Homo sapiens: one gene and its partners. The protein of the gene in region 2 interacts with the protein of the main gene of each other region in a biochemical or structural test. Each region holds a gene or a part of one and is shown on either strand. Other genes may lie near its edges.

Region 1 (3,500 bases), on a different chromosome or scaffold from region 2:
ATGTCAGGTGTTTGAACCAGAGTGCCTACATCTTGAATAGGGGCTGGGTAAAATAAGGCTGAGACCTGCTGGGCCGCATTCCCAGTAAGTTAAGCATCCTACGTAACAGAATGAGATAGGAGGTCTGCACAAGATACAGGTCATAAAGACCTTGCTGATAAAACAGGTTGCAATAAAGAAGCTTGCCAAAAACCACCAAAAACAGGATGGCAATGAAACTGTTGGTCTCACTGCTCATTATATGCTAATTATACTACATTAGCATGCTAAGAGACACTCCCATCAGTGCCATGGCAATTTACAAATGCCCTGGCAAAGTCAGGAAGTTACTCTATATGGTCTAAAAAGGGGAGGAGCCCCTAGTTCTGGGAATTGCCCACCCCTTTGTTGGAAAACTCATGAATAATCTACCCCTTGCTTAACATATAATCAAGAAATAACCATAAAAATGGGCAACCAGCAGCCAATGCCACTGCTCTACCTATGGAGTAGCCATTCTTTTATTCCTTTACTTTCTTAATAAACTTGTTATTGCTTTGCAAAAATAAAAAAGATGTTTGCTGCAGTGTTATAATTTTAAAATGTTAACAAATTATAAGCCATTTTTCCGTCAATAAAGGGAATCAGGTAAACTATTACGCAGCCTATAAAAATGACAAGAGCATTAAATTATGCAGGGAAATACTCATGACCAGTCTAAGTGAAAAACGCAGTTCATAGAATTATATATATATACTTTTTTTTTTTTTTTTTGAGAGGGAGTCTCTGTCGCCCAGGCTGGGGTGCAATGGTGCAATCTCTGCCCACTGCAATCTCTGCCTCTCAGGTTCAAGCGATCCTCCTACCTCAGCCTCCCAATCAAGTAGCTGGGACTACAGGCGCACGCCACTGTGCCAGGCTAATTTTTTGTATTTTTAGTAGAGATAGGGTTTCACCATGTTGGCCAGGCTGGTCTCGAACTCCTGACCTCAGGTGATCTGCCCGTCTTAGCCTCCCAAAGTGCTGGGATTACAGGCATTAGCCACTGTGCCCGGCCTATATATATACTTTTCTATCAATGCTAGGAAATAGCTATAAATGTAGAGAAAAGGAGTTGGTGTTGACGGTGACTATCCCTGCAGGGAGGATGGCCTACCAGCAACCTACAAAATGAGCCTGGGGCCAGATTTGTTTGTTTGTTTGTTTGTTTTAACACAGTCTGGCTCTGTCACCCAGGCTGGAGTGCACTGGCACAATCTTGGCTCACTGCAACCTCTGCCTCCTGGACTTAAGCCATTCTCCCACCTCAGCCTCTCAAGTAGCTGGGACTACAGGCACATGCCACCACACCTGGCTAATTTTTGTATTTTATGTAGAGACAGGTTTCATCGTGTTGCCCAGGCTGGTCTTGAACTCCTGACCTCAAGCCTCCCAAAGTGCTGGGATTACAGGCCTGAGCCACCATGCCCACCCCAGGGCCAGATTTTTAAAAAGCCTTCCCGCATAGTGGGGTAAGACCCCTCACTTATTCTGCCTATGGGGGCTGTATTTTCTGCCTCTCCCAATAGGTCTGCTATAGAGGAGCAAAGTGGAAGAGGCAGAAGCATGTAGCTACTTACCAAGGGATGGACAACTTCAGGGCCGATCATGGAGTCTTCCAAGTCATCTGTAAGGTCAGAATAGCTGTGTGAGTGAGGTCCATTACCCCAGGAAAATGACCCCTTCAGCCAGGACTGGTGGGAGCTCCACCTTACAACCAGCTTCCAAATGCTCAATGTCCAGCAAGCGAGCTTCCCCACCCCTACTTCAGTCATCTCATCTGTAAAATGGGGCTCCTCAGACCCACCCCCTGGCTCTTTCACAGGAATGTGTGAGCTGGCAGCTGGGCAGAGGCTTCATCAGCTCTAAACCCTTGCTCTGCAAAGTGTGGATCCAAAAACCAATAGCAACACCTGAGAGCTGGTTAGAAATGTAGAATTTCAAGGCCAGGCGCGGTGGCTCACGCCTGTAATCCCAGCATTTTGGGAGGCCAAGGCGGGCAGATCACTTGAGGTCAGGAGATCGAGACCAGCCTGGCCAACATAGTGAAACCCCGTCTCTGCTGAAAATACAAAAATTATCCACGGGTGATGGCACGCGCCTGTAATCCCAGCTACTTGGGAGGCTGAGGCAGGAGAATCACTTGAACCCGGTTGGCAGAGGTTGCAGTGGGCCAAGATGGTACCACCGCACTCCAGCCTGGGCGACAGAACAAGACTCCGTCTCAAAAAAATAAATAAATAAATTCCCTCCATACGTATTCCTAAATACATTTTTCCCAATAATGGGCTCGTAACAATATATCATTAACATCTTTCCATTACAATGCTTAAAGAGTTACATTATTATTTTAATTACTTCTATTCAATGAATTTCATTTATTTTCAATAGTCTCTTACTGTTGAATGTTTAAAATGTTCTTATCTAAAAATATTGTCATGATCAGAAAACATTAAAGCTAATATTTCACTTATTTAAAAAGAGTAAAAATAATTCATTGGTTAAAAAAAAAAGAAGAAGAAATGTAGAATTTCAGGGCTGACTGAATCAAAATCTACTTTTTTTTTTTTGAGACAGAGTCTCTCTCTGTCGCCTGGGCTGGAGTACCGTGGTGCCATCTCGGCTCACTGCAACCTCTGCCTCCTGGGTTCAAGCGATTCTCCTGCCTCAGCCCCCCGAGTAGCTGGGACTACAGGGGTGCACCATGACACCCAGCTGATTTTTGTATTTTTAGTAGAGACGGGGTTTCACCATGTTGGTTGGCCAGGATGGTCTCGATCTCTTGACCTTGTGATCCGCCTGCCTTGGCCTCCCACAGTGCTTCAATTACAGGTGTAAGCCACCGCGCCCGGCCAAAATCTACATTTTAACAAGATCCCCAGGGAATTAACTTTTGAGAAAGAAAACTCTAACTGCAATATTAAAACATTTCCTGGGCGACTATGTGAGATGATGGATATATTACTTAACTCCACTGTAGTAACATTTTTACTATCTATATGTATCCCATAATATCATGTTGTATGCACATAATGAAATTTATTTTTTTATTTTTATTTTTTTTCAAGACAGAGTCTTGCTCTGTCACCAGGCTGGAGTGCAATGGCGTGATCTCAGCTCACTGCAACCTCTGCCTCCCGGGTTCAAGCAATTCTCCTGCCTCAGCCTCCCAAGTAGCTGGGATTACAGGCACTCGACACCACACCTGGCTAATTTTTGTATTTTTAGTAGAGACGGGGTTTCACCATGTTGGCCAGGCTGGTCTCAAACTCCTGACCTCGTGATCTGCCTGCCTTGGCCTCCCAAAGTGCTGGGATTACAGGCATGAGCCACCGTGCCCGGCCATAAAATTTATTTTTTTTTTAAACCAAACACACACGTACTGAGTGCTTGGTAGGTGCCAAAAGCTTTAAGTCAGTTCAGTCCCCACAACACTGATGTACTATCTTTATTATTCCCATTTTACAGATTAGAAAACTGAA
Region 2 (3,500 bases):
AAGAGGCTTGTGATTCATTTATCTGCTGAGTAGGAAAACAGCTTAGTAGAGACAGAAAGAGTAAGGGTACCAGAGAAAAGATTATTAGTGGATCAAGGCCCTTTATTTAAGAGGTAGACTCCAGAGCACCAAGGAATGTATAAGTAATTAATGGTCCAATTGGAAATTTGTTTTTCAACTCTACAACTCAGCTAAAATGAATGTATATCTTAAAGATATCCAGTGAAGATAGACACTTTTATTTTTTGAGGATATTTGTTCCTCAATTAATTCCTGGAAATCATTTCTTTTATAATGCCCTACAATTTAAAAAGAGATGTATCAATATTTTAAACATTATTGGCAAAAGGGTGAGAATATCATCTATAAATTTTGCATCAACAGAATAGCTATTTTCATTTTTCCATTTTATCTGTTACTTTCTTAACCCTATACTGTTTATCCATTCCAGGAAGTTAATACAGATTTCTAAAAGCAAGTTATATAGTATGAGTTTACTCTATTTGGTATGCTATTTAAATGATACTACTTTTTCTTCTTTTTTCCTCCCAATAAGGATCAAGATTCCCTAAAGAAAAGCCAAGGTGTTGGTCCAATTAGAAAAGTTCTCCTCCTTAAGGAAGATCATGAAGGCCTTGGCATTTCAATTACAGTAAGAAGTAGTACTTCCAGTATCATTTTCTACAGTTATCTAGTATAATCATGCTCCTTTGTTGGACATCACTGGGGAACAGAATATTCTGGATATATTTTTTAAATAACTAAAATTTATCCCCATGGGGATAAATGTTTGCTTTTGTGTAAATATTTTTTTAAGAAATAAATATTCCTAGCAACTATTAAGTGTACCTTTAGTAAGCATAGTTTAACATTTTTATTATGATTCACTTAATAGTTCTGTGCCATATACTGTGATGCCTCTAGGAGCCCTTGGGAATAGACGTGGCTGTTTTCTTCTATGTTAAATGGCTTCAGATTGTATTGTTCTCTCTCGGAGTACGTGTATCTTTCTCTTGCCTCATTTATTAGCTGTCAGATTTCACTGGCTCTTGGGTCCAAATGTTATATATTCTTTTTTTTAAATTCGATGCCTTTAGGAGTCATTTTGTTGTCATCTCAGTGCTTTAATGAATAAGGTGGCTTTAATTTTCATTTGGTAATACTTAGGCACTGAGCAAGATCATTTGTTTTTTTAGTATTGCTTAATGTAGAAATGTTTCTTATAATAAAAAGCTCATCTAATCTATATTTCTTGAATACTTACCTTTTTTTTTTTTATGTGCTGCCTTCAAAGAGCATACATTTTAGCAGGACAAATAAGACACACACACACACCCCTACACACACGCAACAATGATATAAGCTAGAGAGTGATAGGTACCAAATACTGCATTTTTTCAATTCTACATTGCATATATTTTCATATTTTAACTTCTCTGAAATTGAAATTTATCTTATAATCTTAAAATTATTTTTGTGGCACCTAAAATAATTGGTCTTGTCATTCGTAGTGATTTAGACTTGATAAAATGTAATGGTGCTATGGAGTACTAACACATAAGTTTTTTTTAATTTAAGAATTTAGCCAATTTCTGTTCAATACTCTGATAATTTTTACCATTACTTAAGTAGCAAATAAAATTTTACCCAGCATTTATAGAGACAGCATAGGTGTTTAATGAAATATATTTTTAAGAAAATATTTTATCTCTAGATTAATCGGTAACTGTACCTTACAAAGAGTACTTTAATTTACTGCCCTTTGTTGTTGTTAGGGTGGGAAAGAACATGGTGTTCCAATCCTCATCTCTGAGATCCATCCGGGGCAACCTGCTGATAGATGCGGAGGGCTGCACGTTGGGGATGCTATTTTGGCAGTCAACGGAGTTAACCTAAGGGACACAAAGCATAAAGAAGCTGTAACTATTCTTTCTCAGCAGGTAAATTCCCTTCATGTAATTAGAACTGGATCTATCAATTGGTTATGAATCTATTGAACACTGTATACTTCCCTACGAAGTTTCTAAAGTAGTAAAGTGTTTACACATAGTTCTTGTTTCCTTTGATTTAATGCTTTTATAGCTGACATTCAGTCAGATTTACTGAAAATGGACCATTCCATTTTGTTTACTTCATAACTTTGAGCAAGTTACTTAAGTCCTCTGTCCCTCAGTGTCCTCACCTGTGTGGGAGGGATTGAAAGAAAGCTGTGAGGATTAAGTATGTTAATACATATAAAGTACTCAGAACAGGACCTGAGACTGAAAAAACAACATCCTTAATGCCTAGAACACTATATATAAGGTATTACAGAAAAGACAGTGCTAGAAGTAGATTGATTTTAGTCATGGAATATTAAAATTGAAATCACACATAGAAACTATCTAGCCCAACTCTCTTAAAATGAGTAAACTAAAGTTCTTAGCGATGAAAGGATTTACTCAAAGTTGCCAAGCAAATAAATTATAGAATTGAGATTCATACTCAGGAGTCATATTTGTCATACAGTTGTACTTAAAATGTTGTTTTATTTTATTTCTTTCAAGAATAGAGTTGAGGGAATTAGAGGCATTGGTAGTACATTGAGATGTTTCTTGGATTATCAGTGTGGTATGCCTCTGTAGAATTGCATCTCAGAGTTGAAAGTGAATATTGTTCATTGGTTCAATTCTATATGATGCATAAATCTTTGCAACATCACTACTTCAATAATTACATTACAGGGAAGACTTGCTGATATCAACCAGTCCATTCCATTGTAATACAGTACTGATTTTTAGAAAGCTTTTTCTCATATTAAGCCTGAAATCTGTGTCTCCATGACAGCTACTCACAGATCTAATTCTGTCATCTAAAACTTTGCTGAAGACCACTGCATCATCTGTCTCTTTCTGCAAAATGGTATTTTTAAAGCATTAGCTGACAAGAGAGATCTAAGAATGCTACGCTATTCTCTTAAGTTAGTGTTTTATCAATCCATCTTGACTGTCATCCAGTAGCAAAAGAGTGGGATAACTGGTGAAGGAGCTATCAATGGGCAGCCATAAGTTTTAAGGAAATGCTAACTAAGCACATATTAAAATTCTGAGGTATAACCTTAAACTGCTGGGAAAGAAGAGCACCAAAGAGACTAACTTAGTGAGTAGCAGTCAAAAATGCCGTGTTTTCTTTTGAGCAAAGGCAAGCCATAGTTTTCAGAATTGCCAACACCACACTTATATGTAGTGGTTGGAGTCTCTTATTAAATGACAATTATAGCTTGGAAATTTTTCTTTTAACATAAAACGATCTGTAACATTTTTTTCTTTTTTGGAGCCAGGATCTCACTTTGTCACCCAGGCTGGAGTGCAGTGGCACAATTACGGACCACTGCAGCCTCAACCTCCCAGGCTCAAACAGATCCTCCGACCTCAGCCCCCTGAGTAGCTAAGACTACAGATGCCTGCCACCATGGCCAGCTAATTTTTTTTTTTTTTTTTTTTTTTGTAGAGATGGGTTTT
Region 3 (3,500 bases), on a different chromosome or scaffold from region 2:
TTGGAGGTTTATGATAATGGCAGTGACACAGGGAGAAAGGTCTTAACAGATCAGAGGTAAAGGGAAGTTTTTCTATTAATATTTATAACTTACTGAGGAGCAAAAAGTTAGAGAAACAAAAAGAAGAAAACAAAAAGAGGTAACTGGGATGAAATCACACCCAATAAAGATACTCGGTATTACAAATAAAACTGCACTCTTTCCTCTCATTCCTCCCTTTAAGATGGTTCTGAAATCTAAGGACAAAGTTAGAAAATTCTATTCTCTGGTTGAATAAAACAAGAATCATCATGCTATGGGTGGACTGTCATTCCCTATCAATGGAAAATTTTGCAAAAGAAATAACACTTTTTAGGGAGTAAATCTTAGAATATTCTCCAAAGCAAACAAGAAAACAGTATGAAAAATAAATCAGGGAAAAATAATTAGGGAACTCTAAAAAGTTAGAAAAATGTTGAAAAAGAGCCAATGGAAATAACAAAGGCAATCTAAAAAGATAGAAATTCAGGGAGAAAATAATTAGAATAAAACTTTGTTGATGTATCTTCGTTACTGCCCAAGGGAAAAAGATAACTGTATCTGAAGGGAAAATTGAAGTATTCCCTTAGATACAGATGCTGTGTGATTTACCAGGTGTAGTTCACTGTGACCTAACTTAAGTGTGCTTCATGAAATTCCCCTTGCTGTGATTCAAAACTCAGAATTACACATTTGATTCCTAATTTCATTTCCAGGGACCATGAAGTATTAATACGTGGGTGCCCTGGGCAGTAGACACATCATTTCAGACATGGGAGCAAGATCTCCCACTGTAAAGTAATAAATTATTTGTTTAGTTTTTAAGTCATTCTCTCAGGTACTTGAATAGTGTGAACTGATTTCCCTCAGCCTGATTCCCCCAGAGAGACCTAACCAAATCAGGCTTCTAAATCTGGACACTTTAACAACAGACCTCAGTGACCCCAGAAAACTATAGCATCCCATGACACGACACACAGACCAGAGCAGCCACCTGAGCTCCTTCAGCCCAGGGCTACCATTGTGCACTGCCATGAATTTCCCAAGGAACCTGTGTGGGAACTTGAGCCTCTGTACTTTCTGAAGTCAAGGAACGCGGGGAGGAGGCCAGCATCTGTAGCTCTGGCATCTGGAAGAGGATTGCGGTCAGCTTTTTGAAGTTCAGCCATCGCTGTGATCCTGTGGCTATAATGTTTAAAACTGAAGAATTTATAAACTGCATTTTATTGACTTGAAAGAGGATAAAATGGCATGGGGTGGCGGGATTTACTGCCTTTTTTTTAAGTTTCATAACAGAGATGGTTAAATGATGAGAGCTAAGCTCTGAAAGAGCTTGGGTACAGCAGTTTTAAAGCTAAGTGTTTAATGTAAAGACTATTGAGCCGAGGGCAGTGGCCCACGCCTGTAATCCCAGTACTTTGGGAGGCCGAGGCGAGCAGATCATGAGGTCAGGGGTTCGAGACCAGCTTGGCCAACATGGTGAAACCCCATCTCTACTACAAATACAAAAATTAGCCGGGCATGGTGGCGCATGCCTGTAATCCCAGCTACTCAGGAGGCTAAGGCAGGAGAATTGCTTGAACCCAGGAGGCAGAGGTTGCAGTGAGCTGAGATCGTGCCACTGCCCTCCAGCCTGGGTGACAGAGCAAGACTCCATCTCAAAAAAAAAAAGACTTGAGGCCAGGCACAGTGGCTCACGCCTGTAATCCCAGCACTTTGGGAGGCCGAGGCGGGCAGATCATGAGGTCAGGAGATCGAGACCATCCTGGCTAACACGGTGAAACCCTGTCTCTACTAAAAATACAAAAAATTAGCTGGGTGTGGTGGCGGGCTCCTGTAGTCCCAGCTACTTAGGAGGCTGAGGCGGGAGAATGGCGAGAACCCGGGAGGCGGATGTTGCAGTGAGCCGAGATCGCACCACTGCACTCCAGCCTGGGCGACAGAGCAAGACTCTGTCTCAAAAAACAAAATAAAACAAAAAAGACTTGAATGTAACTATCCCTTGTTTTTCACTATTTGTCAAAATTGGATCCACAGTCTCATTCCGCATCCTCATAGCCCCAGTGAAGAAATTGAAACCCAGAGGAGTTGGCTTTTTTGTATGTTGTTTGTGTTTTTGTTTTAAGACAGGGTCTCTCACTCTATCACCCAGGCTGGAGGGCAGTGGTTCACCTTGACCTTCTGGGCTCAAGAAATCCTCCCATCTCAGCCTCCCAAGTAGCTGGGAACACAGGTGCGTGCCAATACGCCCAGTAAATTTTTTTTATTTTTTTTATAGAAATAGGGTCTTGCTATGTTGCCCAGGTTTGTCTCAAACTCCTGGGCTTAAGCAATCCTTCTGCCTCAGCCTTCCAAAGTGCTGGGATTACAGGCATAAGCCACCACACCCAGTCCCAGAGGAGCTTTGAGACTCGCTCAGAACCAAGAAGTGAACTAATGACCAGATCCATTATGATGGCAACCTAACGATTGAGATCCATTATAATGTTTACATTTGTTGCTCTCAGCCAGCAGCAGGACCATCTGTCTACGATGACTTACTTCTTCACCAGAGTTGCCAGTTCCCTGCTCTCCACAGTCCCCTGACCCAAGCAAGGCAGAATGCTGCCCTGCACAGGAGTGAAGGTAGAGAGAATCATTAATCAGAAAGCTCCTGACATTTCCCTGTTAATCTTACTCTCCTCCTTCTGAGTGGATGGAAATCAGTCCAGAGAAAAAAAAATCAATCAATTTCTTTTTTTTTTTTTTTTTTTTTTGAGATGGAGTCTTGCTCTGTGGCCCAGGCTGGAGTACAGTGGCTCAATCTCCGCTCACTGGAAGCTCCGCCTCCCCGGTACATGCCATTCTCCTGCCTCAGCCTCCCCAGTAGCTGGGACTACAGGTGCCCACCATCACGCCCGACTAATTTTTTGTATTTTTAGTAGAGACGGGGTTTCACCGTGTTAGCCAGGATGGTCTCCATCTCCTGACCTCGTGATCCGCCTGCCTCAGCCTCCCAAAGTGCTGGGATTACAGGCGTCAGCCACCGCGCCCAGCCAAATCAATCAATTTCAATTTTTTTGACATCCTACCTCAAGTCATGAGTATTTTTCAGTAAAAATTTTCATCAAGCCTGTTTTATTTAAACTTTTATTTTTAATCAATAAATAATAGTTAAATTAAAAATGTGATGTTTTGATAGATGCATATACATTGTAGAATGATTGTATCAAACTAACATATCCATTGCCTCACATACTTGTCTTTTTTTGTAGTAAGAACACTTAAAATAAGCTCTTTTAGCAATCTGAAATATATATTATTATTAACTATGGTCACCATGCTGTTCAATAGGTCCTGAAAACTCACTTTTCCTGTCTAACTGAAACTTCGTACTTTTTTTTTTTTGAGACAGAGTCTTGCTCTGTCACCCAGGCTGGAGTGCAGTGGCACAATCTCAGCTCACTACAACCTCCACCTCCTGGGTTCAAGCAATTCTGCCG
Region 4 (3,500 bases), on a different chromosome or scaffold from region 2:
GTGACCCTCTGCTTCTCCTCTAGCCCCTGAGAGGACCTGCCGAGCAACTTTGATCAACGAGTCTCCAGTGCTAAGCTACATGGACCTCGTGGGCTTCAGCTACCAGGTGGCCAATGGCATGGAGTTTCTGGCCTCCAAGAACGTACGTGTGGTGTTGGTGGGGCAGAGTGGGGGCTGTGGGGAGGTGGGTCACCCAGCCAGCCAGCATCCTCCAAGAGCACACCAGGGTGGCCTCTCGCACATGGGCAGTGTTGTATTTTCCCAAAGCCCTTGACATGAAGGGTCTTTCCCCACAATTGTCCCCAAGGCCTCAGCTCCCCTCTCCCCAAACCCAGTGCGTCCACAGAGACCTGGCGGCTAGGAACGTGCTCATCTGTGAAGGCAAGCTGGTCAAGATCTGTGACTTTGGCCTGGCTCGAGACATCATGCGGGACTCGAATTACATCTCCAAAGGCAGCGTGAGTACCTTCCCTGGCCCCTGCAGGGCAGTCACAGTGCCTGTGACCGCAGGAACAGATTCCCTCCTGACCAGTGTGGCTGCAGCTCATAGGAAATCTGTGTGGGGCTCCTTGTGGCCTGCCCTGACAGCAGTGATGGGCTGTGCCTGCCCAGCTATGTGTGCAGGGACAGGATGGGGAGCCGCCCAGGAGTGCATGGAGCAAGTATAGCGGCGGGGAGGGCTGGCTATAATGGGTCCAGGGTGGGGGAAGGGGGAACAGGCCGAATGTGTTGTTCCAGTGGTGGTGGGCAGAGGAAGAAGCCCAGGTGACAGGGCAAGAAAGATGAGCAGGTCACATGCAGTAGCAGGGATTGGTCTGGTTAAAACGTGATCATCCTGCCTGTCTCTCATCTCCCCACTTTTCCGCAAACCCCAGATGGAGGGACGCTAGGCCCAGAGATCAAAGGCAGCCAGGATAAGAGCTTGGGGGGTGCCTTGACAAGTCCCTGGCTCCCACACTTCACTACTCAGACCCTGGGGCTTTTCCCCAGGGACAGGGGCTGCCTTGTCCCCAGCTAGTGAGAAAGGAAACAGCCTCTGGTCCTCTGACCAGCCCTGGGATGGACATGGGAACTGTGCTGCGCAGAGACCAGGGCCCTCACAGGGAATGGGACGGAGAAGTGGTTGTGGGTGGGAGCTGCCAGATACCCTCCTCCCATCCCAGGTGCAGAGTGGGGCTGAGGTCCTTCCTTGCACTCAGCACCTGTCCTGACCTCCCTACAGACCTTTTTGCCTTTAAAGTGGATGGCTCCGGAGAGCATCTTCAACAGCCTCTACACCACCCTGAGCGACGTGTGGTCCTTCGGGATCCTGCTCTGGGAGATCTTCACCTTGGGTATGCTTGCTTCCTCCTCCAGCCCTCAGCATCCTGGCCTGGTGTCTACCTCGACCACTCATGCCTCTGGCCTGGTGGGGCTATGGGACGAGCCCTGATACAGGGATCCTGGTTCAGGTCCCAGCTCTGCTACCTTCTCCCTGCTGTGTGATGTTAGCAAATTCTTTGCCCTCTCTGGGTCTCTTTATCTCCCTGTCTGAGCATTGACAGGTTTGAACAGTGACATCAGAAAGCCTGCTTGGCTCTCACATTCTGGCTGTCTATCCTGGGGAGGGTTGTGGTCTCTGTTCAGAGCCCATGAAGGAGCCCACAGTTCCAAATGCCAGGGGCACTGCCCCCTTACCCATACCAGGGCCAGCATGGCTCTCCTTGTCCTGTAGAAGAGGGTGCCCTGCCACTTTTCCACCCCTGAGCCTGTGTATCTCTTGTCTCTGCTCCCCAACAGGTGGCACCCCTTACCCAGAGCTGCCCATGAACGAGCAGTTCTACAATGCCATCAAACGGGGTTACCGCATGGCCCAGCCTGCCCATGCCTCCGACGAGATGTGAGTGGAGTCTCATGCATTTGGGAGGATTTTGTGCTGCAAACAATAGATATCCAACTCTACTGGCTTAAACCAAAGATGAGAGATTTGTTAGCTCAGAGATCTAGAAAGCCTTGGTGTAACTGGATCCAGCCATTCAAAGGATGGCATCAGGAACCTCTTGTTCTAGCCCTGAGCTCTGCTTTGCTCTGTGTGGCCTCATTTTCAGGCCAGCATTGCCCAAATGGCTACCAGCAGTGCCAGTCTCATGTCCTACTGCTTGCTCCATAGTGCCAGCAAAAGTCCCAGAGCTGACCTTCAAGGGCTCAGGTGGGGTCACATGCCATCAAGAACCAACCGTGGAAGCTGCAGGGCTGAAAACTGTTGGCGAAGGTTGGCTCCTGTGCTCACCCAGGCGTAGTCAACCTGTGGAACCATGTGGAATGGGGGCTCTGCGAGGGCCTCCCAAGGGAATATCCAGAGACAGGACCTCTGGATACACCCAGCCACCACTTCCCTCCAGCTCCTTTCCATGGCTCACCTTGTTCTGAGAGGCAGCAGCCTCCTGCTCCCCCAGCCCTGCCTTGTCCCCTGAACCCTGGGCCAGAGGCCCTGACCCTTCTCCCTATCCCCAGCTATGAGATCATGCAGAAGTGCTGGGAAGAGAAGTTTGAGATTCGGCCCCCCTTCTCCCAGCTGGTGCTGCTTCTCGAGAGACTGTTGGGCGAAGGTTACAAAAAGGTATGTTGAGGCAGGGTAGGGGTGGAGCACGGAGAGCTCTGGTGCAGAAGTCAGACACCGAGTACAAGGCTCTGCGTGATGGGCTGGCATTTAGGGGACCACCCTTTGTCCTCTCTGGGCCTCAGTTTCCCTGCTGGTTCTAGGAGGGGATGGGCTGGCGCTGTGAGTTTATTTTAGCAGCAGAGAGCTTTATGAAATGGAATCCTACATGGAAGCTGATCGATTAGATGCAGGGAGGGGGCCTAGAGCACTGTCTGTCCTGCTGCCTCCCTCAGGCCTTTACCTCCATACCGAACCGTGGGGCTCCTTCAGAAGTGTGAATAACCCCAGGTTACATGACCATGAACCGCCTGACCACTTGGATCCTGTCACAGGATTGTCCAAGGCCCAAAGAGCCAGTAGGGCCCTGAAACCCTGCCCCGTCCAACAACACGGGTCCAAGTGAGGAGGAAATACACATGGCCTTTGACACAGAGGCAGCTCCTTCTTTGGGTCCATTTCTCACCCCCACTGCCCCCCGGGGATGGTCCCAGGGACCTGGGAGATGGAGTAAGGTCATCACCACTTCACAGCAAAGGAAACTGAGGCCCTGAAGAAGGACGCTGAGGCAGCATGAGAGCCTGTGCCTGTCTGCTCTGAAGTGGGGGAAGAGTTAGAGTCCTGGGTGCTGGTCTGATAACTGCCCCTCCCTGGGTGGTCCTGAGCTCACCATGCCTTGTAAGATTCTATGTGAGGTAGGAGGGCAGCTCAACCATGTGGCTTGGGCAAATCCCTTTCCCCTCTGAGCAGCGGGGGTCTTATTTATACAAAGGGGGATGGGCTCGGTTAGAAGATCCCTGAAGGCATTTCTGGCCTGACCATCCCTGTTTCTTTGGTTCTCCCTGCCCCGGGAGCAGAAGTA
Region 5 (3,500 bases), on a different chromosome or scaffold from region 2:
GATCAGCAGAGCTGATGGATTTTTGTATTTTATTGACTCCAGGCACTTTTTGTTTTCTGTTCGCAGCCTCGTGATGCAGGAATGTTTTGTGCTTTATTGAAATCTTAGTTTCTATTTTGACATGGTTACAGACAATACATCAATGGGTATAGTGCTTAAATTTCAAAATGCACAAGTTCTATTCACATTGAACCATCATGATCAAAGCCTGAAATAAAACACCTCCTACTTGACATTTATGTAAACTGTATAACATTTAGTTGGACTTCACACTTGTTTGGTGATTTCAAGGTAGAATTGGATGCAGCCAGATCACCTTCATAATTCCTGTCCAGTGCACTCATTTCTCCTGCTGCACAGTCAATTTGTATTTATTTTGATATAGCATGTATGAATACAAAAACACATACACATCCATGCCCTGACTGAAAAGTCTATTGTAGTTAACAGCAAACAGTAAATCAGTCTATCGTTCCTGGGCTGTTATCTTTCTCTTTCAATTTCATAAGCTCTGAGAATAAAGGTATTATCAAATGATCACCTTGCAAGTTTTCATCCTAATGTGCTAGGCAGTACCATTAGGATAAACAAGTTGTTAAACTGAAAATATTTAAAAATCAGCATAACTGACATTTCTGTTTTCTAAAAATCTCCTCATCAGTCCCAGATGAACATTCCACTTACACAATGCTTGCTTGTGGCTGAAGCTGTTCTAAAATTGTATACATGCCAAATTGTATGACACAGAGGGAGACAGAGGTTGTGGAGAGAAGCTGTGTATCACACCTGATAGAAAAAGGGTCTTCATGGAGCATGGGCTATGACTTAGCCACGTAGCTTCCATTGAGCTCAATAGGATAGCAGTCACATGTTAGATATTTCCACAAATGTGTATTCTACTTAATGAACGTGGGTGTGCAACTTGAAGATGTCAACAGAATTGTGCAGTTAAAAGAAGTGGTGATATTTGAAAAAAGGCTGGGTGAACAGAGGCATGGGGTGAAAATCATCACAGATCATGGCGGTGGTAGAAAGGATGGTTGGAATTCTTTTAGGAAAGCCTTGGCTAGACTTAAGTTGCTTTATCAAGTTGAAGATATAATCCAAAGTGAAAAGATTCTTAAAAAATAATCCCCCTTTAAGTAAACTATTATTATTGTACATATGTGAAGACTAATGGGTAGAGAGAGACTTAAAAGGATGCGCGGCCTATAGATGTTAATTGGGATGAGTGCCGTCAGTGTGGTGGTTGAAGTATTATGCTGAGTACTTTAAATAGTTCCAAATTATAGTGAACACATAAACCTTCCTTGGGAACTTATAATTTTATGCAGCTTTCTTTGGTGGCAGTATAAACATAACATTTTATGGGTTTTATTAATAAGAATATTGTGAGGAATGCAAATTTAGAATATTTTATTCATTCAACAAATGTGTATTGTCTGCTGGCCATTTGTGCCAGGCATTGCTCTAGGCTTCTGGGGATACAGAAAGTACCAGAACAGGTAAAATTCTCTGCTTGCTCTCATGCAGCTTACACTGTTGTGGGAGGAGACAGACAGTAAATACTAAGTGATATGAGCAAGAGTCACTTCAGATAGTGATATATGCAAAGAGGAAGTCTAAAACATGGGAGTTAGAGGACGCTGGGTAGTACTGAAGTTAAGAATGGCCTAGGAAGGTGCGTTGAAAGGATGACATTAGATCAAAGACTTCTCAGAAGTGAGGAAGCAAAGAGGCCTTGAGGAGGAAGGGATGACAAGGTCAAGGGCCTTGCTGTGAATGGGTGCCTGGTGCACCCACCCGTTTGAAGCACCATGGGAGTCACAGCAGCTATTGTGAGTAGAGGGGTAGCAGGAGATGGCGTCTGTATGGTGCTGAGGCATCAGTCGGTGCAGGGTGTGGTGAACCATTATACAGAATTTGACTTTCATTCTAATGGAATGAGAGGCCATTGCACAGTAGTGAGTGAAAAATGCCATGATTCAGGTGCTGAGAACAGGCCACAAAGGCAAAAGGCGTAAAAGCAGGAGGACAGGTGAGGAGGCCCTGCGTCCCGTAATATTCATGAGAGGATGGTCTCTTGGGCCAGGGGATAGCAATAGAAGTGGCATAAAGTATTCAAATACTGACTATAAATAAAATTTGCTTATAAATTAACTAGTAAGAAGAATGTGTCTGTTTTATGAACATAAAATCAATATTTGCATTTTGGATGATTTGCATTTTGAATGACAGTTGCAGTTGTATCAATTGCAGCTCATATGATATCTTCATTTGGTTTTGGTTGCACAGGAAATTCTGATTTACTTGGGTGTTGAAAGTAGCTTACTTGGGCCGGGCACGGTGGCTCACGCCTGTAATCCCAGCACTTTGGGAGGCCGAGGCGGGCGGATCACGAGGTCAGGAGATCGAGACCATCCCGGCTAAAACGGTGAAACCCCGTCTCTACTAAAAATACAAAAAATTAGCCGGGCGTAGTGGCGGGCGCCTGTGGTCCCAGCTACTCGGGAGGCTGAGGCAGGAGAATGGCGTGAACCCGGGAGGCGGAGCTTGCAGTGAGCCGAGATCCCGCCACTGCACTCCAGCCTGGGCGACAGAGCGAGACTCCGTCTCAAAAAAAAAAAAAAAAAAAAAAAGAAAGTAGCTTACTTGGCAATGCCTGGACACTCTGCTAGACAGATTGCATTTGAAAGGGGAGTTAAGTAGAAAAATTTTGTTTCAACGTTGTATCACCAAAAATGTCTAAGTATGGTTCACATTCTTATAAAAGACTAGAAAAATTTAATACTTATTCTAAGTATTAAACTGTAATGCAGAACTGTAAGGAGAAAAATTACTACTTATTCTAGGTACTAAAACTGTAAATGAAGAACAATAAGGAAATTCATTAAACTGTTACTTCTTTATGCACAATTCATGGTTAGGCCTATGATGAGAATATGCAATGAGCAGATGTGCCTGGTCCTTGTTGTGTCTTGTGCTGCTGTACAACCTGTTTCAATTTTATATGCATAAACTCTCTGTGTAGCTCGAATTTTTTTTAAGACTAATTTAGAGCTACAGTTTTCTTAAACAATCATGCAGTTAAACTATTTTCAAATGATGGCAGAGATCCTGGTGGCATAAAGTAATGCTGCTGTTCTCTGCTGTAAAATATGGTGAGACATTTTTAATTGTATTTTTAAAAATAATTACAATTGTATATTTTTTTAAATTTTGGATCCAACTTTTTTTCAAGCCTCTTGAAGCATCTAAGTGGATCCCTGGGGTTAACAATTTATAAACCATTAATATATAGAAGGTATTAAAAGCACATGAAGACATATTGATATGGGAACATATATACATATTACAAGTGTTTGAAGCATTGTCATAGCCTTTGTTAGAGAGTAGAATTTAACATAAAGTGGGTTCCTGAAGGAGCCCACTTGTGAGGATTTGAGGACTAAAATAGGATCTAAAAAGGTTATTTCCAGCCCGGTTTTATGGCCTATACA
Region 6 (3,500 bases), on a different chromosome or scaffold from region 2:
CTGTCTCCCCGGCTGGAGTGCAGTGGTGCGATCTCGGCTCACTGCAAGCTCCGCCTCCCGGGTTTTACACCATTCTCCTACCTCAGCCTCCCGAGTAGCTGGGACTACAGGCGTGCACCACCTACGCCCGGCTAATTTTTTTTTTTTTTGGTATTTTTAGTAGAGATGGGGTTTCACCATATTAGCCAGGATGGTCTTGAACTCATGACCTTGTGATCCGCTCACCTCGGCCTCCCAAAGTGCTGGGATTACAGGCATGAGCCACCGCGCCCGGCTCAGTTAAATCTTATACCCAGAGAAGGAGGTAGCTACTATTCTTATCTTCATTTTATAGATGAGGAAATGGAGGCCCAGAGAGGAGTGAAATTCTGAAAGTCACACAGCCTGGAAGTGATAGGGCAGGAATGTGACTGCCTGCCCCAAAGTCCTTGCCTTTCACAACCAGGCTTTGCTGCTCTTGTAGTTTCCAATGTTTACTGTTGTCTTTCAAAAACTCTTCCTGGCATATTGTTAGGGAGAGACATTTTGTCCCTGTCACTCTGCCTCCTTCAATAACAGTAGATCTGTTAATAAGGCTGATAATAACAGTAATATTAGTAATAATAGCAAGAGTAATTAATAATCATTGGTCTTTCTTTTTTTTTTAGACATGAGGTCTTGCTCATCTCTAAAATGAGCAATGCTACTGCAATCCAACCTGGGCAACAGAGCAAGACCCTGCCTCAAAAAAAAAAAAAAAACAAACAAAACCCTAAATAAACCAACAAACTAAAGGCACAGATAATTATAAGCAAGATTTTTCACCTGTGTGAGGAGCACTAGAAAGTCATGAAGAGGAAAGGATAATTCTTTTCCATATGAGACTGTCTTGTACATGGTAGGGTATTTAGTATACTGGCCTCCCATTCTCTAAATGCTCAGGCTGGTCTCGAACTCCTGGGCTCAAGCAATCCTTTGCCTCAGCCTCCTGAGTAGCTGGGATTACAGGTGCATACCACTGTACCTGGCTTTTTTTTTTTTTTTTTTTTTTTGAGACAGAGTCTTGTTCTGTTGCCCAGGCTGGAGTGCAGTGGTGTGATCTCAGCTCACTGTAACCTCTGCCTCGCAGGACAATTCTTGTGCCTCAGCCTCCTGAGTAGCTGGGATTATAGGCGTCCACCACCACGCCTGGCTAATTTTTTGTATTTTTAGTAGAGACAGGGTTTTGCCATGTTGGCCAAGCTGGTTCTGAACCCCTGACCTCAGGTGATCCACCTGTCTCTGCCTCCCAAAGTGCTGGGATTACAGGCGTGAACCATCACACTGGCCTGTACCTGGCTCTTCATTGGTCTTTACTATACAGAGAGTGCTGTGGTAAACACTTTATTCCACCTAAACTCCCGTTTTGATCTCTCATTCCCCTGAGTGACTGACAGCCCCAGAGTCTCATCAATGCACCTTCAATTTCTTTGTCACTTTCTCGTCACTAGTCATGTCCTGCAAACTGGCCTCCTTCTGGTCCACCCCAGGGCCTTTGCACATGCTGTTGTTAGACTGAAACACTCTACTCCCTTCTCAGATTGCTCCTCTGGAAACCTGCCCTGAGACCCTGGGAGCAGTTTCTTGGTCGTATTTCTCAGAATGTCTCAGACCACTTCACTTGCAGTTGTGTGACTGAACTCACAGCATGAGCTTAGAATATAGTAGGCACTTAGTAAATACTAACTGAATGAATGCATAAACCCATAGGAGAAGATTGAAGCGAAAGAATGACCTAGAACAATGGTTTTCAGAAAACTGTTGTAGAACTACGTGGAAACCTAATAACATAATGATTGAGGGGCACTGCAGGCACTTAGAGAATGGTAGGCAGTTATACTAAATACCCTACCATGTACATGACAGTCCCATATGGGAAAGACTTATCTTTTCCTCTTCATGACTTTCTAATGTCCCTCAAAGAGGTGAAAAATCTTGCTTGTAATTACCTGTGCTTTTAGTTTGCTTGTTTGTTTGGGTTTTTTCTTTCTTTCTTTCTTTTTTTTTTTTTTGAGACAAGGACTTGTTCTGTTGCCCAGGTTGGAATGCAATGGCATAATCATAGCTCACTGTAATCTTGAACTCCTGGGCTCAAGCAATCCTCCTGCTTCAGCCTTCCAAGTAGCTAGAACTACAGGCACCTGCCGCCACACCTGGCTAATTAAAAAACTTCTTTTGTAGAGATCGAGGTCTCCTTATGTCGCCCAGGTTGGTCTCGAACTCCTGGCCTCAAGCGATTCTCCTTCCTCAGCCTCCCAATGCACTGGGATTACAGGTGGGAGCCACTGCACCTGATCCTGTGCTTTTAGTTTAAACCTAACTCTTTTACATAAGAACACAACATATTTTTTGTATGTTTTTAATATACATTGCATTTTCCTGCAATGCAACTATTAAATAAATGGAAGAAAGACTAGACTCTTTTGTATATGGAACTTTGCCAAGAGGTGTTCAACATTGTGGAACATCTTGACACTGCTGGCAACTCCCCTCATGTGGTTTGAATTGTCCACACAACCCAGAGTTAGCCATCATTTGTGCCTGTCACTTCATGGTGATTTTGTGTATGGTGTACATATCAGAATTACTTCACTATGTCCTCCAGAGTCTCATTACTCAAAATGTGGTCCCTGGACCAGTAGTATCAGCCTCATCTGGGAGCTCGTTGCAAATGCAGAATCTCAGGCTCCACTGAGTCCTTAGCCCTACGGAATTACAATTTGTGTTTTAACAAGATCCCTGGGGATTCACATACACATTAGATTTTGAGAAGTGCTGGCCTACCTCATATGTCATACAACAGGATCACTTAAACCCATCATTAAAAAAATCAATATTATGCCCTGATGGTAATATAAAAGAGGACTAAGAGCAGGTTAATTTGTAATAGGACAATGTCTACGATGTCTATTTTAATGGGTAAGTTGTTGAGTCCCTATATGCAGAATCACTATAGCATCTGCTAGAAAGTATTACAAAATGTCGTTATGAAAAAGAGGATGCTGGTTCTGAATGGATAAGTTGCTGGCCTGGAAGATGCCTCAAAAGCTTTCTAACATTTTTATTTATTTTTAAAAGGTGAGGTCTCACTATGTTGCGCAGGCTGGTCTTGAACTCCGGGGCTCAAGTGGATCCTCCCACCTTGGCCTCCCAAAGTGCTGGGACTACAGGCATGAGCCACCACATCCCGCTGCATCCAAAGCTTTGAAACTCTGCTCTCCCTTCAATTCTAACGGCCCAAAGTGCCTTTTCTTTTTCTTTATTTTTTATTTTATTTTTTGAGACAAAGCCTTGCTCTGTCGCCCAGGCTGAAGTGCAGTGGTGCAATCATAGCTCATCATAGCCTAGACATCCTGGGCTCCAGTGACCCTCCTGCCTCAGCCTCCCAAGTAGTTGGGACTGCAGGTGCATGCCACCACATCTGTTTAATTTTTTATATTTTATAGAGATGGGGTCTGCCTCTATTGCCCAGACTGGTCTCC
Region 7 (2,687 bases), on a different chromosome or scaffold from region 2:
ATCTTTACTAAAAATACAAAACTTAGCTGAGTATGGTGGCTCATGCCTGTAATCTCAGCTACTCAGGAGGCTGAGGCAGGAGAATCGCTCGAACCTGGGAAGCGGAGGTTGCAGTGAGCCGAGATTGCTCCATTGCACTCCAGCATGGGCAACAAGAGCAAAACTCCGTCTCAAGAAAAAAAAATAATAATAAAAAATAAAAAAAAAATATATATATATATATATATATATGGTTACAAACTCTGTTGTCAATCTGGGCTGGGCCCGGGGCTGGAGGGACTGCAGGGAGGGAGGGATGGTCCCTCATCCCACCCCTCAGAGTCCCTCCTCTGCACCCAAACCCAACACCATCCAAGGGCCAAGGTGGCTGGCGTTGAGGGCCTCAAGGGGCCAGCCAGCTGGGCAGGGGAAGGCGCTAGGCTTGATGGGCTGGGTGGGGAGGGGTGCACAGAGAGGGACTGCATCTCCCTGTCCAGCAGGTAAAAACGGCAGAAAGTGAATTTGGTGTCTCCATCTGTCTCCATTTATAGATATTTACAAAAGAAAGTCATGAGCAACAGGCCACAGTCATGCAAAAGAAACGCACCCCCCCCTCCCCAAACTAACCCCCTGCCCACCCTGAAACCCCGAGATGTCCCCCGCCCAGCAGTCCAGCCACCTTCCCCAAGGTTCTGAGAGCAAAGAGGGCACGTCCTTGAAGAGTCAGTGGGGGAAGGGTGGTGGATCCGGGGACCTAGAGCCACCAGAAGTAGGCGCTGGCGGAACTCAGGCTGATCGGGGCCGAGCTCTTCCCAGGCCTGGGTGCTGGAGTCAGGAGGAAGGGGTCCCCCAGTCTTTGAAACCCCCACCTTCCTCCAGAAGGTCCACGGAGCCAGGGTTGGCTCTGTCCTGAGTGTGGGAGGGGGTGTCCTGGCATCCCACCCCCGGCAGAGGCTCTTGTGGGCAGTGGTGAGGGCCGGGCCTGGAGGTCAGATGGCAGACTCCCTGCGGTAGGAGATGTTGTCCAGCGGGAGGGAAGCCTGCATGCGCTCCAGGTCCAGGTGGCTGCCGAACTCCAGCATCCGGATGATGCCCGCCTCCTCCTTGGAACCCGCCTCCAGGCCCAGGCCTGCGGCCACCGCGGCCGCCGCAGCTGCCTCCTCCTCCATCTCCTCTTCCTCCTGGCTCATAAGGGCCAGCTCGTTCTCGTAGCAGAAGGCACTGGGAGGGGGCGGTGGGGCGGGCAGCACGGTGATCTTACTCTCCTGCAGCTCCCGGGCCGAGCAGCAGGGCGTGCCGGCCACCTCGTAGGTCTTGTGAAAACGTGAGTAGTCCACCTTGTAGTGGCTCTTCTCCTCGAAGACCACAGGCTCAAAGCGGTGGCCCCACAGGATCTCGCTGGCCAGGTAGGAGCTGCGGGCCTGGGTGGTCATGGCCGTGGCCTCCACCATGCCCTCCAGGATGACCACGATCTCAAAGTCCTCCGACTCCAGCTCCTCCTTGCCCATGCCATAAAGCGGGCTGTCCTCGTCGATCTCGTGGACAATGATGATGGGCGACACCAGGAAGATGCGGTCCAGGCCGATGTCATAGCCCACGTTGAGGTCCCGCTGGTCCAGGGGCAGGTACTCGCCCTCCTGGGTCATGTAGGGCTTGATGAGCTGGGCCCGCACGTGGGCCTCCACAATGTGGCTCTTGCGCAGGTTGCCCACGCGCCACATGAGGCAGAGCTTGCCGTCGCGCACCGAAATGACCGCGTGGTGGCTGAACAGCAACGTCTGCGCCCGCTTCTTGGGCCGCGCCATCTTGGCCATGATGGTGCCAATCATGAAGGAGTCGATGACGCAGCCCACGATGGACTGGACCACCACAGCGATGACTGCCAGCGGGCACTCCTCTGTCACGCACCGGAACCCATAGCCGATGGTCGTCTGCGTCTCCACCGAGAACAGGAAGGCACCCAGGAAGCCGTTCACGTGCATGATGCAGGGCTTGGGGGCCACCGGGGCTGCTCCGCCACCACCCGCCGCCGGGCCCCCCGCCGCAGGCACCCCTGGGCTGGCCTCCAGGTCACCGTGGAAGAAGGCGATACACCAGAAGAGGAGGCCGAAAAAGAGCCAGGAGACAAGGAAGGCCGCGGAGAAGATCATGAGCATGTAGCGCCAGCGCGTGTCCACGCAGGTGGTGAAGATGTCCGCCATGTAGCGCTGCGACTTGTTGCTCAGGTTGGCGAAGTACACGTTGCATTGGCCGTTCTTCTTGACGAAGCGGTTGCGGCGCTTCCGCCGGGGCACGTGGGCCTGGCCGTTGCGGCTGTGTCCGTGCATGTCCTGAAGCCGGCGTGGTCACCTGGGAAGACGCAGGGCCTGCGGAGGAGAAGCCGGACAGGTGAGATGCTGGGGAGCGAGGGGCTCCCTCGGGGCCACTCAGACTCAGCCCCAAGACTCTCAGAAGCAGGTGAGCCTGGACCAGGACCTAAGACTTCCTCTGCCCCGGCAGGCGGAGGGTGGCAGCAGAGGTGGCTCTGATGACAGGGTCTGAGCCAGTGCCACCCAGTCCGGCCCAGCTTAGAGACTGGGGTCCATAGACCAGGAAGCTAAAGCCACAAGGATCCAGGTCCTAGTCCCTGCCCCTCAACACTGCCCCTCCGGCCCTCCTATGCTCACTGTTCTGGAAGCTTCCTGATGCCCATCTTGGTTCCTCCCTGT

The links.
Region 1: the proteins of GOPC (region 2) and SDC4 interact in a test that uses a peptide from one of them, tested with the Homo sapiens proteins (one large-scale study listed by IntAct).
Region 3: the proteins of GOPC (region 2) and OR10G3 interact in a test that uses a peptide from one of them, tested with the Homo sapiens proteins (one large-scale study listed by IntAct).
Region 4: the proteins of GOPC (region 2) and PDGFRB interact in a test that uses a peptide from one of them, tested with the Homo sapiens proteins (one large-scale study listed by IntAct).
Region 5: the proteins of GOPC (region 2) and CTNNA2 interact in a test that uses a peptide from one of them, tested with the Homo sapiens proteins (one large-scale study listed by IntAct).
Region 6: the proteins of GOPC (region 2) and CACNA1A interact in a test that uses a peptide from one of them, tested with the Homo sapiens proteins (one large-scale study listed by IntAct).
Region 7: the proteins of GOPC (region 2) and KCNJ4 interact in a test that uses a peptide from one of them, tested with the Homo sapiens proteins (one large-scale study listed by IntAct).

The regions. Positions count from the first base shown.
Region 1 is NC_000020.11:45,331,425-45,334,924, forward strand, and holds part of SDC4 (syndecan-4 precursor), read right to left. Parts: intron 1,646-3,500; coding exon 1,599-1,645; intron 1-1,598. UniProt on the Homo sapiens protein: Cell surface proteoglycan which regulates exosome biogenesis in concert with SDCBP and PDCD6IP.
Region 2 is NC_000006.12:117,568,012-117,571,511, reverse strand, and holds part of GOPC (Golgi-associated PDZ and coiled-coil motif-containing protein), read left to right. Parts: intron 1-556; coding exon 557-652; intron 653-1,653; exon of another isoform or gene 1,654-1,775; coding exon 1,776-1,940; intron 1,941-3,500.
Region 3 is NC_000014.9:21,573,577-21,577,076, reverse strand, and holds part of OR10G3 (olfactory receptor 10G3), read left to right. Parts: intron 1-3,500. UniProt on the Homo sapiens protein: Odorant receptor.
Region 4 is NC_000005.10:150,117,846-150,121,345, reverse strand, and holds part of PDGFRB (platelet-derived growth factor receptor beta isoform 1 precursor), read left to right. Parts: intron 1-23; coding exon 24-142; intron 143-335; coding exon 336-458; intron 459-1,222; coding exon 1,223-1,334; intron 1,335-1,779; coding exon 1,780-1,879; intron 1,880-2,493; coding exon 2,494-2,599; intron 2,600-3,495; coding exon 3,496-3,500. UniProt on the Homo sapiens protein: Tyrosine-protein kinase that acts as a cell-surface receptor for homodimeric PDGFB and PDGFD and for heterodimers formed by PDGFA and PDGFB, and plays an essential role in the regulation of embryonic development, cell proliferation, survival, differentiation, chemotaxis and migration.
Region 5 is NC_000002.12:79,911,551-79,915,050, forward strand, and holds part of CTNNA2 (catenin alpha-2), read left to right. Parts: intron 1-3,500. UniProt on the Homo sapiens protein: May function as a linker between cadherin adhesion receptors and the cytoskeleton to regulate cell-cell adhesion and differentiation in the nervous system. Required for proper regulation of cortical neuronal migration and neurite growth.
Region 6 is NC_000019.10:13,293,480-13,296,979, forward strand, and holds part of CACNA1A (voltage-dependent P/Q-type calcium channel subunit alpha-1A), read right to left. Parts: intron 1-3,500.
Region 7 is NC_000022.11:38,425,827-38,428,513, forward strand, and holds the end of KCNJ4 (inward rectifier potassium channel 4), read right to left. Parts: intron 2,346-2,687; 5' UTR 2,307-2,345; coding exon 969-2,306; 3' UTR 501-968; downstream 1-500. UniProt on the Homo sapiens protein: Inward rectifier potassium channels are characterized by a greater tendency to allow potassium to flow into the cell rather than out of it.